Linked DNA regions of Homo sapiens: region 2 is linked to region 1. The links come from fine-mapping of genetic effects on gene expression. A gene starts in region 1. The other region holds a variant in brackets. All regions are shown on one strand. Distances are between the middles of the regions. Region 1 holds the start of P2RX4 (purinergic receptor P2X 4). Region 2 overlaps P2RX4 (purinergic receptor P2X 4).

What was found.
Region 2: its variant is fine-mapped to the expression of P2RX4 in whole blood (TOPMed, PIP above 0.99).

Annotation. Positions count from the first base shown.
Region 1 is chr12:121,205,566-121,214,936 of GRCh38, reverse strand. P2RX4 (purinergic receptor P2X 4) reads right to left here and starts at 4,808. Exons shown (of 12, transcript NM_002560.3): 1 at 4,639-4,808. The coding sequence starts at 4,772. It overlaps LOC105370032 (a long non-coding RNA gene), which reads left to right and starts at 4,865. Exons shown (of 4, transcript XR_001749352.3): 1 at 4,865-5,088. RefSeq lists an enhancer at 3,983-4,032 and a silencer at 4,363-5,102.
Region 2 is chr12:121,232,564-121,241,934 of GRCh38, reverse strand. P2RX4 (purinergic receptor P2X 4) reads right to left here. Exons shown (of 12, transcript NM_002560.3): 10 at 9,259-9,324; 11 at 8,843-8,938; 12 at 7,829-8,412. The coding sequence ends at 8,386. CAMKK2 (calcium/calmodulin dependent protein kinase kinase 2) reads left to right here. Exons shown (of 17, transcript NM_001270485.2): 17 at 1,066-4,243. The coding sequence ends at 1,236. Among named protein-coding and RNA genes, the nearest start is that of P2RX4, 27 kb to the right of the region's middle. RefSeq lists a silencer at 1,090-1,169 and an enhancer at 7,566-8,193. The variant C/T (reference allele first, on the strand shown) is at 4,470.

The DNA of each region.
Region 1 (9,371 bases):
GGTGGGTGCCTGTAGTCCCACATACTCGGGAGGCTGAGGCAGGAGAATCACTTGAACCCGGGAGGTGGAGATTGCAGTGGGCTGAGATCATGCCACTGCACTCCAGCCTGGGCAAGAGTGAGACTCTGTCCCTCCACCAAAAAAAAGAAAAGAAATTAATGGTTTTGTTACTTATGAGTGTGTGTGATCGAGCAGTCTCCAAGTTCATTGCCCAGCCTAGAGATGGGCTTTCCCCCCATGGGCTTTTCCCCTGACAAGTCCAGGGCTTCTAGGAATTCAGCTGCAGTGTAAGCTTCCATTTAATTCCAGTCTGACACACAAAAGCTTGGGGCAGGAAGACTGATGTACTCATCAAGTACAGTGAGTTGCTTAATTTAGAGACACAGGGTTTCATGCCACTCATTATCATGTGATTATTTCCTCCTCATATGATTGTTAACAGAGTTAGATAGATGAGAATTGCGTGTTCGGTCTTTTTTTGAGGGAGGGTTGCTGTAGGAGGAGACCACAATTTCACTAAGATGAGTTGCATCAAAAAGTTAAGAGATGAGGTTAAAAAAAAAAAGAGCCTTAATGCAGGTCCTGAGTCAGTTTTGATTATAGCAAGACGGACAAAAGCAAAGCATTTACTGCTTTAAAGATTCTCATGACCGAGATAGTGAATGCGTCATAAGGAATCCTACAGAGCTGCGCTGTCCCATAAAAACATAACGCGAGCCACATATTTTTTTTTTTGAGACAGGCTCTCGCTCTGTCGCCCAGGCTGAAGTGCAGTGGCACAATCTTGGCTCACTGCAACCTCCGCCTCCCAGGCTACAGCAATCCTCCCACCTCAGCCTCCCAAGTAGCTGGGTCCACAGGTGTGCGCCACTATGCCAAGCTAATTTTTCGTATTTTTGGTAGAGATGGGGTTTCACTACGTTGCCCAGGCTGGTCTCAAAATTCCTAAGCTCAAGGGATCCACTTGCCTCAGCCTCCCAAAGTATTGGGATTACAGGCGTGAGCTACCACAGGGCAAGACCCTGTAATTTAAAAGTTTCTAGTAGCCATGTCAAAAAGTAAAAAGAAATAGAAAGGGCTGGGCACGGTGGCTCATGCCTGTAATCCCAGCACTTTGGGAGGCCGAGGCAGACAGATTGCTAGAGCTCAGGAGTTCGAGACCAGCCTGGGCAACATGGAAACCTCATGATTGTAGAGATGAGATTTCTCATCTGTACAAACAAACAAACAAAAACACAATAATTAGCCAGTCATGGTGGTGTGCACCTGTAGTCCCATAATTCCAGAGGCTGAGATGGTAGAATCACTTGAGCCTGGGAGGCAGAGGTTGCAGTGCATTGCACTCCAGTCTGGGTGACAAAGCAAGGCGCCGTTTAAAAAGAAAAAAAGAAAAAAGAGACAGGAAAAATTAATTGTAATGATATATTCTGTGTAACCCAATATATCCAAAATATTTTAACATGTCATCAATAAAAAATGTTTTCATGTGATAGTGGTACTCTTTGTTTTTTTGAGACAGTGTCTTGCTCTGTTGCCCAGGCTGGAGGGTGGTGTGATCACAGCTCTCTGTGGCCTCAACCTCCCAGGTTCAAGCAGTCCTTCTGCCTCAACCTCCCAAATAGGTAGGCCTATAGGCGTGTGCCACCATGCCAGGCTAATTTTTGTATTTTTTTGTAGAGGCAAGGTCTCGCTATGTTGCCCAGGTTTGTCTCAAACTCTTGAGCTCAAGCGATCTTCCCACCTCAGCCTCCCAAAGTACTGTGATTTCAGGCATGAGCCACTGTGCCCAGCCTCTTTTTCTGTACTATGTCTTTGAAATCCAGTGTGTATTTTAAGGTTATAGCACATCTCAGTGTAGAGTAGGAACGGTTAAGTGTTCAACAGGTGCAAGTTACTAGTGGCTACCATACAGTGCAACACCACTATGGATATTTTCCGCAGTTGTAATTTTACAGGTACCCTAAGGTAGATGTGCACTGATCCTCCCACTAGCAGCAAACGCCAAAAGCAAAAAGCTGCAGGGGAGCTCCTGCCCCCAAATGCTTCAGGTCCAACCAGGGATGTGAGTTCAGTTAACTGGCTAGCAGTGAGTCTCCAAAAAAAAAAAAAAAATATATATATATATATATATATATATATATATATTTGAGATGGAGTTTTGCTCTTGTTGCCCAGGCTGGAGTGCAGTGGCGCAATCTGGGCTCACTGCAACCTCCGCCTCCTGGATTCAAACGATTCTCCTGCCTCAGCCTCCCATGTAGCCGGGATTACAGGCATTAGCCACTAGGCCTGGCTAATTTTTTGTACTTTTAGTAGAGACGGGGTTTTACCATGTTGGCCAGGCTGGTCTCGAACTCCTGACCTCAGGTGATCCACCCGCCTCGGCCTCCCAAAGTGCTGAGATTATAGGCATGAGCCACCGTGTTCAGAAAAAAAAAAAAAAAAAATTCTTTTTTTTGCACTGCTCCATCAGTACAATTTACCATTTTAAACTTTATTTTTCTCTTAGAGATGGGGTCTCGCTATGTTGTCCAGGCTGGTCTTGTGTCCAGGCTGGTCTTGAGCTCCTGGCCTCAAGCAATCCTCCCACCTTGGCTTCCCAAAGCACTGGGACTACAGGTGTGAGCCAATGAGTCCAAATCTGGGTGTGGGCCAGGTGGTTCTGATGTTGAGTCTGCACCTGGAAAGCCATCCTCTTGAATACTGTCTGTATCTACTGCTGCTGCTGACAGATATTGGAAGCCAAACCTGCTTGGGCTTCCCTTGGGCAGTGTTAAGATTCCAAACCTCACCCCAAAGACGGGGGGATCTGTTACTTTTAAACAATTCCTCAGATGAGTCTTCCATGATCAGGTAAACTTGGGAAACACAGTTCATTGGTTCCGAAACGTTGCTGAACATGAGAATCACCTGGGCAGCCGATCATACTCTGCAGCAATTAAATCAGAAGGTCTGGGGATGCGTCTGGGCGCGGTGGCTCACGCCTGTAATCCCAGCACTCTGGGAGGCTGCGGCGGGTGGATCACCTGAGGCCAGGAGTTCGAGACCAGCCTGGCCAACATGGCGAAACCCTGTCCCTACTAAAAATACAAAAATTAGCCGGGCATGGTGGTGGGTGCCTGTAATCCCAGCTACTCAGGAGGCTGAGGCAGGAGAATCGCTTGAACCAGGGAGGTGGAGGTTGCAGCGAGCCAAGATTGCACCACTGCACTCCAGCCTGGGCGACAGAGGGAGACTCCATCAAAAAAATAAAAAAGGGTCTGGGGATGGGAGCCAAAGATTTCCAGATGGTTCCAATGTGCAGTTTGGAGACCACTGCACTAGGCAATACGTGTCAGCCCAGCAGCTGTAGACACCAGAACACCCCAGGTAAGCCTTTAAAGTGGCCCCAGGTGGCAAGGTAATTATCATCTTCTCTCTCGCGTTGTATTCAATTGTAACAGGTGCCAGCCCCGCGTGGGGGCTCACGCCTGTAATCCCAGCATTTTGGGAGGCTGAGGTGGGCGGATCACCTGAGGTCAGTTCAGGACCAGCCTGAAACCCCGTCTCTACTAAAAAATACAAAAATTGGCCGGGCGTGGTGGCGGGCACTTGTAATCCCAGCCACTCAGGAGACTGAGACAGGAGAATTGCTTGAACCCGGGAGGCAGAGGTTGCAGTGAGCCGAGATCGTGCCATTGCACTCCAGCCCGGGCGACAAGAGAGAAATTCCGTCTCAAAAAAATAAAAAAATTAAAAAAGTAACAGGTGCCTTCAAGTACAATGGCACATTCAGCGAGGCCTGAGGGCGGTAGGGCATCTCTAGCCTAAGGGGGCAGCATGGGGAATGACTGACTAGGCTAGGGCAGGTACCACAAAAAGCCCCACAAGCCCAGAAAACAAAGGAAGCAAACTTTAAACACTCGCTACAGTCTGACCTCGCTACTACCACATAGTGACACCGCATAGTGATCAAAAGAAATGACCAAAAGCCACCCACCCAGAAGGAACCAAGCGGAAATTCCAAGCTTTGGTTTTGTCAGCAAATCAGCAGGATGGGAAGTGGAGAGCGAAGATTGAGACGTTCAGGGCGAAGCCCCTACAGCCAAGGGGCACTATGGGGGGTCAGGCAGGAGAGGGTAACAGCCTAGCCAGGCTTTGCCTTTATTTATTTTGTAAACAGACGGGTCTCGGACTGTCTCCCAGGCTCGAGTTAAGTGGTGTGATCATAGCTCACTGCAGCCTCAGCCTCTTGGGCTCAAGCGATCCTCCCACCTCAGCCTCCTGAGTAGCTGGGACCCCAGGCGCGCGCCACCAGGCCCGGATGATTTTTAATTTTTTGCAGAGACGGGGTCCCACGATGTTGCCCAAATTGGTTTCGAACTCCTGGGCTCAGGCGATGGTCCCGCCTCGGGCTCCCAAAGTGCTCGGATTACAGGCTTGCGCCACCGCGCCTGGCCCAGGCTGTGGTTTTAAAACAGCAGCAAGCAGCCTCCCGCCCCCGGGGCCCCGGCGCGGCGGCTGGGGCCCAGGGAAGGTGTCACCGCCTCGGCTCGCCGCTCCCGGACTCGCCCAGGTGACCGAGGCCAGGATGAGCCGCCGCACGGCGCGGACGCGAGGGCAGCACCCGCCGCGCCCCCCGCGCGGCCCCACGCTCACCCGATGACGTAGGCCAGGATGAGCAGTTGCACGGCGCGGTTCATGAGCCCCACTTTGCGGCTGCGGATGAGCACGATGCGCGGCGTGTCGTACTCGAACAGGAAGGCCGCCAGCGCGGCGCAGCAGCCCGCCATGGCCGCGCCGCCCGCTCCCAGTCCCCTAGTCGGTCTGGGTCCCAGTCCCCGCTCGGAGCCCCGCCCAGTCCGCCTGGCCTGCTGGCGGCGCCGTCATCGCGGAGGAGGGCCCGGAAGGAGGCAGCACGGGCGGTCGGGGCCCGGGGCCCGGGGGAGGGCGCCACCTCCCCGTCGGGAACGATGACCCTCTAGGGGGCATGGAACTCGCGGGGGGGGAGTGGCCTCGCCCTTGAGGACGAAAGGCTCCTTCAAAAGGCGGGCGAGGGGCCGGGGGCGGTGGCTCACACCTGTCATCCCAGCACTTGCGGAGGCCGAGGTGAGAGGAATCTTGAGTTAGAGACCAGCCTGGACAACATAGCGAGACCTCGTCTCTATCAAAAATACAAAAAAAAAAAAAAAAAAAAAAAAAAAGCGGGCGTAGTGGCGCTCGCCTGTAGTCCCAGGGAGGCTGAGGTGAGAGGATCGCTTGAGCCCAGGAGGTAGAGGCTGCCGTGTGAGCTGTGATCGCGCCACTGCACTCCAGTCTGGGAGATGAAGCGAGACCCTGCCTCAATAAACCAGAAACCAAAAAACAACAAAAAAGGCGAGTTGGGGAGTAATGACCTTCTCAGGAGGGCCAGAGAGAACAAGAGACCCTTTCGGGGAAGATGGGGTCCGCGAAGAGAGAGTGACCTCCCATTTGGGACAGAGTTCAAGTGAGGGGTAACGAGCGACCTCCCTTAGGGGTACTGATAGGTGCCAGGGATTTCCGTAGAGGACCCCGGGGCTGTGCGGAGTAGCCATCGCTCACGAGTGCGGGCTCCTAAACTTGGGCAGCTGTGGTTGGGGGAGCTGGGGCCGCGCTGTCCTTAGCCTCTTGGGGAACAGCCTAAATATCAGGTGTCCTGTGAGCCCTGGGTGAGAGCCACACGCCCTGTAAAATACCCCTCCTGGATTTGAAGCCTGGTCGCATTCTCACTCCAAATACTTCCTTAGTTGCAGCCCAGGGGAGATAATTCTGTGGTCATCCTTTCCACTGAGAAAATGCTATCACAACTTTAGGAGAGAAAATAGTGAAAGGGGGGGAAACAGCCACCGTTCTACCCCATGAATACAATTTTCCGCATGTGTATTTGTTCATTCCCTTCAGATACGTTTTTTCTTTTTCTTTTTCTTTTTTTTTTTGAGACGGAGTTTCACTCTTGTCCAGTCTGGAGTGCAGTGGCGCGATCTCGGCTCACTGTAACCTCCGCCTCCCAGGTTCAAGCAATTCTCCTGCCTCAGCCTCTTGAGTAGCTGGGATTACAAGTGCCCGCCACCACGCCCAGCTAATTTTTGTATTTTTATTAGAGACAGGTTTTCACCATGTTGGCCAGGCTGATCTCCAGCTCCTGACCTCCCATGATCCACCCGCCTCGGGCTCCCAAAGTGTTGGGATTACAGGCGTGAGCCACTGCGCCTGGCCCAGATGTGTTTTCACAGGTGAATGTTATATTTAGTTTCCCAGAAAATATTCATAAGCACATCCTTTATGCCAAGTACTGTCCAGTGAACAGGACAAGCAAAATATCCTGCCTTCATGCAGCATAAATTCCAACAGGTAATTGGTATAAAGTTTTGGTTTGTAATCATAGTCAATGGCTGTGCTTTTCATTTTCTGATTCGCACTACGTGGTTTCTGTGTTACTGCAGACTCATCATAATGACAATTTTTAATCCATGGACCATTTCTTCCGGAAAATATACCACGATGTCTCTAACCGCTCTCATCTGCTTGCTTCTTAGTTTGTGGATCCTATGCATAATCTTTGATACAACATTTTTAGCTCATTTCCTGGATATGAGATTCCTAAGTAAGCCACACCAACTTGTTTTTCCAAATATAGAAAGGTGAATAATAAAATTTGCAGAAAACAGGCAGCATCTGCCTCTAAGAGATGGAATTCTTAAGTTAGAGGGAGGAACAGAGATGCCCATGCCAGCCTTGGTCCAAAATGGTCTCAGGAAAAGGTGGTGGTATTTTATTCATTCATTTGACAGAAATTTACTGAGTGCCTGTTGTGTGCTTGGCACTTTTCTTGATGCTAGGGCTATGGAGTGGACAGGTGAGGTATCTGCCCAAATGGAGTTTGGTGCAATTGGGAAGCCTCAAATTATCTGTAGAAGAAGAAAACTCCATTGCTAAATCCTCATTGGAAGGGGACTTAAAAATCATTTCCTTAAGAATCAAAACATGGCTGGGCACGGTGGCTCACACCTATAACTGCAGCACTTTGGGAGGCCGAGGCAGGCGGATGATCATGTGAGGTCAGGAGCTGGAGACCAGCCTGGCCAACATGGTGAAACCTCATCTCTACTGAAAATATAAAAAACTTAGCTGGGCCTTATGGCAGGTGCCTGTAATCCCAGCTACTCGGGAGGCTGAGGCAGGAAGAATTGCTTGAACCTGGGAGGCGGAGGTTGCAGTGAGCTGAAATTGTGCCACTGCACTCCAGCCTGGGTGACAGACTCCATCTCAAAACAAACAAACAAACCCCAAAAAACACCAGGCACGTGGCTTACACCTTTAATCCCAGCACTTTGGCAGGCCAAGGTGGGTGGATCACCTGACATTGGGAGTTCGAGACCAGCCTGACCAACAATGGAGAAACCCCGTCTCTACTAAAAATACAAAAATTAGCTGGGCGTGGTGGCGCATGCCTGTAATCTCAGCTACTCAGGAGGCTGAGGCAGGAGAATTGCTTGAACCGGGGAGGTGGAGGTTGCCATGAGCTGATCACGCCATTGCACTCCAGCCTGGGCGACAAGAGTGAAACTCCATCTCAGAAAAAATAAAAATAAAAAATAATGGCAGCAATCAAAACACATTTCCAGCCTTCATTCATACTTACCCTATAGTAATGAGTTAGTCCCAACCTCACAAATCTTGAATTTAGATGGTTTGCTTGTGTTTTGGAATGGGGTCAGTTAAGAAAAATGTAGAAATGCAAGTTTTTATAAATTACTAGTTGGTAACATCATTAGGCCTGACCAAAGAAGCTGATCCTAAAAAATGATTTGGAAAAGTTATTTTGTTTACACTGTTGCTCTTGGATTATCTCTTTTTAAAAAATAACTTTATTGACCAGACATGGTGGCCCATTCCTGTAATCCCAGCACTTTGAGAGACTAAGTTGGGAGGATTGCTAGAGCCCAGGAGTTTGAGACCAGCCTGGACAACATAGGGAGACCCCCATCTCTATAAATACTTTAAAAATTAGCCAGCCATGCTGGTGCATGCCTGTGGTCCCAGCTACTTGGGAGGCTGAGGCAGGAGGATCACTTGAGTTTAGGAGGTCAAGGTTGTAGTGAGCTGCAATTGTGCCACTGCACTCCAGCCTGGGTGACAGAGTGAGACCCTGTCTCAAAAATAAATAAGAAGGCGGGATGCGGTGGCTCACACCTGTAATCCCAGCACTTTGGGGGGCCGAGGTGGGTGGCTCACTTGAGCTCAGGAGTTCCAGACCAGCCTGGGCAACATGGTGAAACCCCATCTCTACAAAAAGTACAAAAATTAGCTGGGCATGGTAGCACGCACCTGTAGTTGTAGTCCCAGCTACATAAAATTTTTAAAAAAATAAATTGGCCAGGTGTGGCTCACACCTGTAATCCCAGCACTTTGAGAGGTTGAGGTAGGTGGATCACTTGAGGTCGGGAGTTTGAGACCAGCCTGACCAACATGGTGAAGCCCCATCTCTACTAAAAATACAAAAGTTAGCCGGGTGTGGTAGTGCATGCCTGTAATCCCAGCTACTTGGGAGGTTGAGGTAGGAGAATTGCTTGAGCCCAGCAGGCGGAGGCTGCAGTGAGCTGATATTGTGCCACTGCCCTCCAGCCTGGGTGACACAGTGAGACTCTGTCTTAAAAAAAATAATATAATAAAAATAATAAGGAAAGAGAGAAAATTAAAAATGGATCAAAGACATACATATAAGAGCTAAAATTATAAATCTCTCTGATGAAAACATAGGGGCAAATCTTTGTGACCTCGGATTAGACAGTGGTTTTTTAGATTTAGATTTTGTTGCCTAAAGCAAGGCAACAAAAGAAAAAAATAGATAAATTGGACTACTTTGTCAAAACTGAAAAGTTCGTGCTTCAAAGTTACCATCAAGAAAGGGAAAAACCCACAGAATGATAAAATATTCACATATCCTATATCTGTTAAGGATCTAGTATTTCAGATATCGTAAGAACTCTTAAAACTCACCAATAACATGACAACCCTATTTAAAAATGGGCAAACATATCTGAATAGACATTTCTCCAAAGAAGATATACACATGAGATCAATAAACACAAGAAGATGCTCGATATCATTATCGTTAGGGAAATACAAATCAAAGCCACAGTGAGATACCATTTCCTCCCCACTAGCATGGTTATAATTAAAAAGATGGACAATCAAAAAGCTGGCAAGGATGTGGAGAAACTGGAACCCTCACACATTACTCATGGGAATGTAAAATGGTCCAGCTGCTTTTTACTCGTGGGAATGTAAAATGGGCCAGCTGCTTTGGAAAACAGCAGTTCCTCAAAATGTTAAACATAGAAATTACCGTAGGACCAAGATATTCCTTT
Region 2 (9,371 bases), 27 kb before region 1:
TAGGATGCCTTGGTCATGGGAGCTCACAGAGCTGATTCAGGCACTGGGGGTCTTGGACTGGGGGCCTGCCTGCCGTCTGCAGTAAGACCCAACCCCTACCAACAGGCAACTGCGAGGGCAGAGACTGAGGGCCTGACCTAACGTCTAGTTACAGCGCCCCCCTCCCCAGGGACCTTACCCACATTCTCCATCAGAAACATAGCAAGCCAGACATCACGCTTCCTTTCCCTTGTGTAAGGACAGTCTCCCTCCTGGACAGGAGACACGGATTGTTGTGGGGGAAGGACAGACAGTAACCCATGTGGCATGCCCAGTGACCTCCCTAAGAACAGGGGAGCTGTGTGATGGTGGTGAGGGGATAGGCTCGGGGATTCCCCTCGCACCTGTCACGCCATCCACGCTGTCACACCGGCGGCTCCAGCCTGGGCTCTTCAGGGAAACAAGGGCTCTCCTCCTCCCACTTCCAAGAGGGAAGGGGCCTCCTCTTCTGTCTGAGGTGCTCCTCCCTCAGGGCTGGCTGCAGGAGGGCTGAGGCGGGAGGATCCCTGGAGCAGTTGTCATCTGCCCTTTCTTGAGGGCCAGCTGTGTGCCAGGCCAGGCAGGGGAGGCTCTGATCACCCCCACACACAAGGAACTCAACATCTGGTGACTGAGGACAAGCGTCACAGTCCCTTCCCTGTAAGGGCTCATAGCCTAAGTGGGGGATCGAAGTACCTAAAAACCTGGTATGACAGGCGCCGTGGGGTGGGGGGTGCCTTCTACTTGGGATTTGTGCAGTGAATTTTGGTGTTACATAGTTTTGGAACTGTTGTACGGGTCCTTGCTATTTTTGGCAAATGATGCTGGTCTTTCATTTACAGAGGGGCTGCGTGCAAAGTCTCCTTTGAAAAATTTATGTGAGCAAGGAAAAGGGGAGAGGATCTCAAAGACTGGGTTACGTAGATCACGTTCCAGGGGGTGCGCGACGGCCCACTTGGGCAGGGGGCCCAGATGTGGGAGCAGCTGGCTCAGGGCCTCGCTGGCATTTCTCAGAGTCTTAATGTTGGTTTTCTGTTCGGTGAGCAGGAAGCAAGGCAGCGAAGACAACCTCCAGGGCACCGACCCGCCCCCCGTGGGGGAGGAGGAAGTGCTCTTGTGAGAGGCAGTCCCTGCGTGGAAAGTTGCTGGGCCCCCGCCCCCGGCTCCCCCGCACGCATGCATCCACTGCGGCCGGAGGAGGCCATGGAGCCCGAGTAGCTGCCTGGATCGCTCGACCTCGCATGCGCGCCGCGTCGCCTCTGGGGGGCTGCTGCACCGCGTTTCCATAGCAGCATGTCCTACGGAAACCCAGCACGTGTGTAGAGCCTCGATCGTCATCTCTGGTTATTTGTTTTTTCCTTTGTTGTTTTAAAGGGGACAAAAAAAAAAAAAGGACTTGACTCCATGACGTCGACCGTGGCCGCTGGCTGGCTGGACAGGCGGGTGTGAGGAGTTGCAGACCCAAACCCACGTGCATTTTGGGACAATTGCTTTTTAAAACGTTTTTATGCCAAAAATCCTTCATTGTGATTTTCAGAACCACGTCAGATATACCAAGTGACTGTGTGTGGGGTTTGACAACTGTGGAAAGGCGAGCAGAAAACTCCGGCGGTCTGAGGCCATGGAGGTGGTTGCTGCATTTGAGAGGGAGTAGGGGGCTAGATGTGGCTCCTAGTGCAAACCGGAAACCATGGCACCTTCCAGAGCCGTGGTCTCAAGGAGTCAGAGCAGGGCTGGCCCTCAGTAGCTGCAGGGAGCTTTGATGCAACTTATTTGTAAGAAGGATTTTTAAATTTTTTATGGGTAGAATTGTAGTCAGGAAAACAGAAAGGGCTTGAAATTTAATAAGTGCTGCTGGAAGGGGATTTTCCAAGCCTGGAAGGGTATTCAGCAGCTGTGGTGGGGAAACATTTCTCCTGAAAGACTGAACGTGTTTCTTCATGACAGCTGCTCAAAGCAGGTTTCTGAGATAGCTGACCGAGCTCTGGTAAATCTCTTTGTCAAATTACGAAAACTTCAGGGTGAAATCCTATGCTTCCATGTACATTACATGGCTTAAGATTAAACAAAAACATTTTTCAAGTCTCTAACTAGAGTGAACTCTAGAGCACAGTAGTTCAGAAACTATTTAGAGCTTCCAGGATATATTTCACAGCTTCAGGCATGTGATCAGTTAGAGCCGATGAAACCTATGCCCGCCTGTATATATATTAGCAGCTTAGCTAGTTCATAACCTGTATATTCTAAAGACTGCTAAGGTTTTGTTTTCATTTTAAATCCTAGCTGATTGTTGTGGTCAATGAAATACCCAGTTTCTGGAGGGCCAGGTGGGAAATGCTTTCACTGGACCAACACACAAATGATCATCCTGAGGATCTGAGCTTCCCTAGACTCCACACAATAACCTTGGGGCACCCTTTTAGAGAAGACTGTTGAAACCCACAGCACTCGTTGGGGTATGAGGAAACCAGGGCTTGGCACAGGAAGTTCCCCTTTGTAGCTAAAAGTCCAGAAAGAAAGGGTTCATCTTTTTGACTTCCAACTGATATTGGGAAGTTTGGTTGAGGTTCAAGTGTGACTCCTTCCAGAGCCACAGGTAGGGGAGTGTGAAGTTGAGGGGGAGGAAAGCTGGAAGGACTCTGCCTTGGGAGATTCCCAGCTCTGCTTTCCAGCGCTTGGTGGAATCTGGGCTGGGGAAAGACGGCACCGGGAAACTCTGCTTCCCCATTGTTTCCATCTGATCAGCTGTGGTGTGAGGACTTCTCAGACAAAGGCAAGGCCTCGTGCCCCTGCCCAGCCCATTCATGGAGCCCTGGGCCTTCTTGGCTTCCATAGATCCTAAGCTCTTGACTGTAGTTTAGCCAGACTTGTTTTGCTATCTTATAAGCAGTTCAGAATTAGGGAATGCTGGTTTTGAAGAGCAAAGGACAGGTAGTCTAGAGAGGGTCGTCTGGCCTGCTTGCTGGGTCTTTGTAACCCAGCACTTCCTCTTGCCCTCCTGGCTTTATGTTTATGGGGAGAGGACTCAATAGCTCCACCCCTTCTGGCACCAGATGGGGCTTGGTTAGTTTGCAATAAGCACCTTGCAGAGGTTAAAGCCAGCGGGTCCCTAGTCTTAGGCCCAGCCTGCTTGTGTGGGCTCTGGCCTGGCCTGGTGGCTGGCCCAGGGGGCAGCAGTGCTTAGAGCTTCTGCAGGGCTTCTCTTGTTTACACAGCTGCATCAGACAATGCCATTTCTCCCCACCACGGAACCTTCCATCTAAGATTTCTTCCAGGGAATGCCAGCAATCAGGCAGCACCCAGCTGTGGGGGCAGTGGGGTGGGGGAGACCCACATTGATGACTTTTTTTTTTTCTTTTAATGAAGAAACACCAAAGAAAGCTGTGGAAAGGACCTGCCCCACATGAAAAGGATAAGCCAAGATGGCTGTAAACACAGAGCATTTGAGCTGCCACTCTTGGAGCACATTGATTTTTCAAAAGCCAGCTCTGTCAGGAAAGGAGGTGCTGTTATGAGCAGCTCTTCCAGTGGGCAAAGAGGACGCCCATAATTTCTTCCATTGCTAGCTCATCTGTGGGACCAATTTGGTGTAAGCAACCTGTGGCCTGCACTTGTGGCCTCGAAGGAAGCACAAACCCTCCATCCACTTCCCATTTCCTCTGCCCTTTTCCACCTCCCCCTTCCATCCCACCAGCTGCCAGTGGCTCCCAGAAAGCCTTATTGAGCCCCTTGTTGACACTTGGGGCTGCGGAGGCCTCTCCCTACTGGTCTGGCCTTTCCTGAGAGGCAGGTCTTCCGTCCTCAGAGCCTTTCTGGAACAAGGAGAATGCCTGTGCAGGTGGACACACAGGCCTGGCCTGTCGCTCTCACTTGTCTTCCAGCGGGGAGCTTCACGTTGCCGAGTGGAAGAACCATGACCTCCACTTGCTTCCAAGGTGCTAGGGAAGTTTCAGGGTACGCTGGTTCCCCTCTCCAGCTGGAGGCCGAGTTTCTGGGGACTGCAGATTTTTCTACTCTGTGATCGATTCAATGCCCGATGCTTCTGTTTCATTCCCGACCCTTTCTACTATGCATTTTCCTTTTATCAGGTGTATAAAGTTAAATACTGTGTATTTATCACTAAAAAGTACATGAACTTAAGAGACAACTAAGCCTTTCGTGTTTTTCCACAGGTGTTTAAGCTTCTCTGTACAGTTGAAATAAACAGACAGCAAAATGGTGCCAAGCCTGGGCCTCTTGGGGAGGTTTGTATTGGTGATTGTTTATTTAGGCCGCCTGCCCTGATGTCTGTATTCCTTCCTCAGGCTGACAGCGAGGTCAGATGCCCAAGTCAAGGCTAATGTATTCAGCAAATCTCTAATTTAGAGCATGTCCTAGGACCTTGCTACTCAGTGTGGCTCCCAGACCAGTAGCGCCAGTGTCACCTGTGAGTGGGTTAGAAACGCAGGTGC[C/T]GGCCGGGCACGGTGGCTCACACCTGCAATCCCAGCACTTTGGGAGGCCAAGGTGGGAGGATTGCTTGAGCCTAGGAGTTTGAGACCAGCCTGGACAACATGGCAAGACCCCATCTCTTAAAAAAAAAAAAAAAAATTAAAAAATTAATTGAGTGTGGTGGTGCATGCCTATGGTCCCACAGCTACTCAGGAGGCTGAGGTGGGGGGATTACGTGAACCCTGGAGGTCAAGGCTGCAGTGAGCTGTGATCATGCCACTGCACACCAGCCTGGGCAACAGGGCGAGACCCTGTTTCAAAAATTAAAAGAAAAAAATAAATGCAGATACCCAGGCTTGGCTTAAACCTGCTCCCCAGGTGACTCGTCCGTGTGCTGAAGTTTGAGCAGCACTGCTTTCGCAGGCAGGTAATTGCAAGATTCTGGTGGAGGCCAGACAGGTGGGCAGCCCCCGAGCAGTCTCAGTCACACTGAACTATGGCCTGGTATGCCACATGACACTTTACCCCACGAGGTAGGGATTAACCTCGTTTTATGGATCATCGTCTGTGAGGTGAGGCTCCAGAAAGTTAAGTCAGTTGTCCAAGGGTTAGAATTTGCCAGCAAAACCCTTCTGGTTTTCTTTTTTGAGACAGGGTCTCGTTCTGTCACCCAGCCTGGAGTGCAGTGGCAGTCTCGGCTCACTGCAATCTCCACCTCTCAGGCTTAAGTGATCCATCCACTTTGGGTTCCAAAGTAGCTGGGACCACAGGGGCCCACCACCACACCAGCCCCCACACCCAGATAATTCTTAAATTTTTTATAGAGACAGAATCTCACTATATTACCCAGGCCTGGTCTCAAACTCCTGGACTCAAGCAGTCCTCCCACCTCAGCCTCCCGAGTTGCTGGGACTACAGATGTGCACCACCATGCCTGGCTAATTTTTAAATTATTTGTAGGGATGAGGTCTCACTACCTGTTGCCCAGGCTGGTCTCAAACTCTTGGACCAAGTAATCCTCCTGCCTCAGCCTCCCAAAGTGCTGGGATGACAGGCGCGCATCACCACACCCAGCCTCCTGCTGGTGTTCATGGCATCTAGAAACACACCCGCCCCTCACCCCAACACTGGCTTGCTTTCACATTTGTTTTAGAAAAGAGGCTAAACAGCATCTCCCCCACTTCGGAAGACAGCCAGTGACCATCACTCCTTGACGAGCAAGATCATAAACACACCCATTGCCCTTAAGTCTGTTTTGTGCTGCTGTTACAGGGACCTAAGACTGGGTAATTTATAAAGAACAATAATTGATTTCTCACATTTCTGGAGGCCAGGAAGTTCAAGATCAAGGTGCTGGCAGGTTTGGTATCTGGTGAGGGCTGCTCTCTGCTTCCAAGAGGGTGCCTTGGTGCCGCATCCTTTGGAGGGAGGAACACTTGTCCTCGCGTGGCAGACAGTGGCAAGGCAGACGGGGGATGAGCTCCCTCTCTAGCCCTCGTATAGGGCACCAACCCCATTCATGAGGGCAGCGCAATCCTGACTCAGTCACCTCCCCAAGGCTTCACCTCCCAATAAGGTTGCCTTGGGGATGAAGTTTCCAAAATGTGAATTTTGGTAGACACATTCAGCCCATATCACCATTCCTAAACATTCCAGCTTCATTTGACCCATGTGCCTAAGCAAGCACTTTTTATTTTTTCAGACAGGGTCTCACTTTGGTGCCCAGGCTGGAGTACAGTGGCACCATCATAGCTCACTGCAGCCTCAACCTCCTGGGCTCAAGTGATCCTCCGGCCTCAGCCACCCAAGTAGCTGGGACTACAGATATATACCGCCACACCCGGCTAATTTAATTTTTTGTAGAGATAGGGTCTCACCATGTTGACTGGGCTGGTCTTGAATGCCTACGCTTAAGTGATCCACCTTGGCCTCCCAAAGTCCTGGGATTACAGGCAACAAGCATTTTTTTTTAAAAGGCAGCATGAACCAGAGCTTCAATAAAGGGAGTTGGTAAACTTTTTTTTTTTTTTCCAAAAGCAAGAAAAGCCCAGGTTGGCCATTTATCCAGCAGAAGCAGAGTATTTGTAAAATAATGGTTCCTCTCAGTACTTGGAAGTGAATTCATGGCAGAGGCGAAGGGCAAACTGCTTCCTCTAGGGGGATTCTGAATACCTGATGCAGAATTCAGCTGGTGTGTGGCTGGGTGCAGTGGCTCACGCCTGTAATCCCAGCACTTTGGGAGGCTGAGGCGGTGGATCATGAGGTCAGGAGTTCCAGACCAGCCTGGCCAACATGGTGAACCTCTGTCTCTACTAAAAATACAAAAATTAGCTGGGTGTGGTGGCAGATGCCTGTAATCCCAGCTACTTGGGAGGCTGAGGCAGGAGAATTGCTTGAACCCAGGAGGCAGAGGTTGCAGTGAGCCGAGATCATGCCACTGCACTCCAGCCTGGGCAATAGGGCAAGACTCTGTCTCAAAAACAAAAAAACACAAACATTTAGTTGGTGTGAAGCTGCAGCTGGAAATAGCTTCATGAACATTTCGAACCTGTGCGGAGCTAGGTATGCGTGCTGCTGCTTTTGGTTGGAGACTTTTGGGAAGCAAACAGGGAAGGGAGAGGAAGCCACTTCCATGTTACCAAAAATTGTGTTACCCACAGCATAGAATTGTAATTTTATGTCAAAATGGAGGCACAGGTAAGATGTCACTAGAGAAAAAGTGTCCTGTGAACTGTGCAGGAAGACAAGCTAATGACAAATTATTAGGCTTTAAAAAGTAGGCAGCTGGGTGCAGTGGCTCATGCTTGTAATCCCAGCACTATGGGAGGCTGAGGTAGGAGGATCGCTTAAGCCCAGGAGGTGGAGACTGCAGTGAGCAGTGATTGCGCCACTGCACTCCAGCCTGGGTAATAAAAAAAATAAATAGGCCAGGTGTGGTGGCGCACACCTGTAATCCAATCACTTTGAGAGGCTAAGGCAGATGGATCATTTGAGGTCAGGAGTTCGAGACCAGCCTGGCTGGCCAATGTGGTGAAACCCTGTCTCTACTAAAAATACAAAAATTAGCCGGGCATGGTGGCATGCACCTGTAATCCCAGCTACTCGGGAGGCTGAGGCAGGAGAATCGCTTGAACCCGGGAGGCAGAGGTTGCAATGAGCCGAGATTGCACCACTGCGCTCCAGCCTGGGCGACAGAGTGAGACTCTGCCTCAAAAATAAAATAAATAAATAAAGAAGTAGGGGAAAATGTGCATAAGTGCCAGAAACAGACCATCCCATGGACCTTTTCTGAGCACAGTGAGCCGGAATAGTGGATTTACTGGTTGTCGTAAAAGGGTAGGAAGGAAAGTTCTAGCACATGCTATGAGACAACAGACAGGGATTAAGAAAATCACGCTTTAATGTCTGGTCCTCGATCACCTTAGCACAGCGCTTCTCTGAGGAGAAATGCCAGCTCTGCCGCATGGCTGCAGGGAATGGTCGGGGGGAAGCCTGCAGCCCAGGCCTGCTACAAGTCTAGTGACTGCAGCCAGGCGGCCTCCCCTGCCGCATAAAGTGCTTGAACAGAGCCGCCGTGCCTCAGAGGACTGGGCCTGTCCTGGAGAGAGCTGGAGACAGGAGGCTTCTGAGCAAAGCCAGCTCCAGCCCTGAAAGCCACAGCAGTGCCACTGCGTCGGGCCAGCGCTCCCCCGACAACCCCAGGTTGCGGGAAAAGCAGAGTTGACCCAGCCAAGAACAGACTGCTGACCTCCTGGGCCGAGTGGGCAAACAGATCCTGCACACAACACACAGGAGCTGCTGGGGAACCCTGAGTGCTTGTGGAGTGGAGACTCAATCAGATTCCAGAAATTTCTCTGGGGTGATGTGGTGGCCATTTCTCCCTCCTCCTCCTCTCTGTTCTTTGATGGGGCTGTGGAGAGCCCAGGTGTGGGGTAGGCCTCACTGGTCCAGCTCACTAGCAAGACCCTGCAAAGAAGGACACAAGCAGATCAAGGTGCCCCTGGGACCCCTTGTGGCAGGCGGGAGGGAGGTGCGCTCCTGGGACTTCACCGCCAGGGGTTCTCAAGTTGGTCCCAGGCCTGGAACCCAACCCTTCCTGTTCCGCAAGGTGCACTGAAGTAGTGTGTGCCCACAGGCATTCTCAGAGCATGCATTATCATCACCAACCTGAGATGTCGCTCATTGAAACGAGGCTGGGTTTAAAGAGTCAATCTAGTACAGGGGCCTAGGGATGGAGCAGCTGCTGAGAGTGGCAGGACTGCCCGGGTTAACGGGGACACCACGCCACACTGGTGCCAGCCTCTGCAGAAGGGCCTCCCCAGACAGGCCCACGCCCAGGGCTCCCACACCCAAGAGATGAGAGGCCTGTGCCTGCTGGGGGCCAGGAGGGGCCTACCTGCTCGTAATCTTCCACATATTTATATTTCTTCTCCCGATAGTAGAGTCTTTTCTTCATGCAGTAGAGGACTATGATGTCACACAGCACGGTCGCCTGAGTTTAGCATAGGGTGAGAGTGAGCCAGGATGCTTGCAACCCATCAACCCATCTTATTCTTTGCGTGCCCCTTCCTGAGAAGCCTGGAATCTTTACCGGAATGGAAAGGCACTCCCATCTCTTGGGAGAAGGCTGGGACCTGAGGGGGGTGGTCTTGGAGAAGGGAAGGTGGGAGGAGGGCTGGGGGCCAAGGGAAAGAAGGTAGGAGGGTCAAGTTTAGAAACACATCTGAGGTCTAGGGCCTAGGGCCAGGACCAGGACCCCAGCCCAGGGTCTCACCTCACCGTGAGGGTGAAGGCAGGGCCTAAACCACTCACCATGCCTAGCAGTGCCAGGCCAGAGCCGATGTTGATCATAGTGGGGATGATGTCAAATTTCCCTGCCTGCCAAGACACCGAAAAAGAAAAAAAGTGTTTCTGCAGGGGCAGGG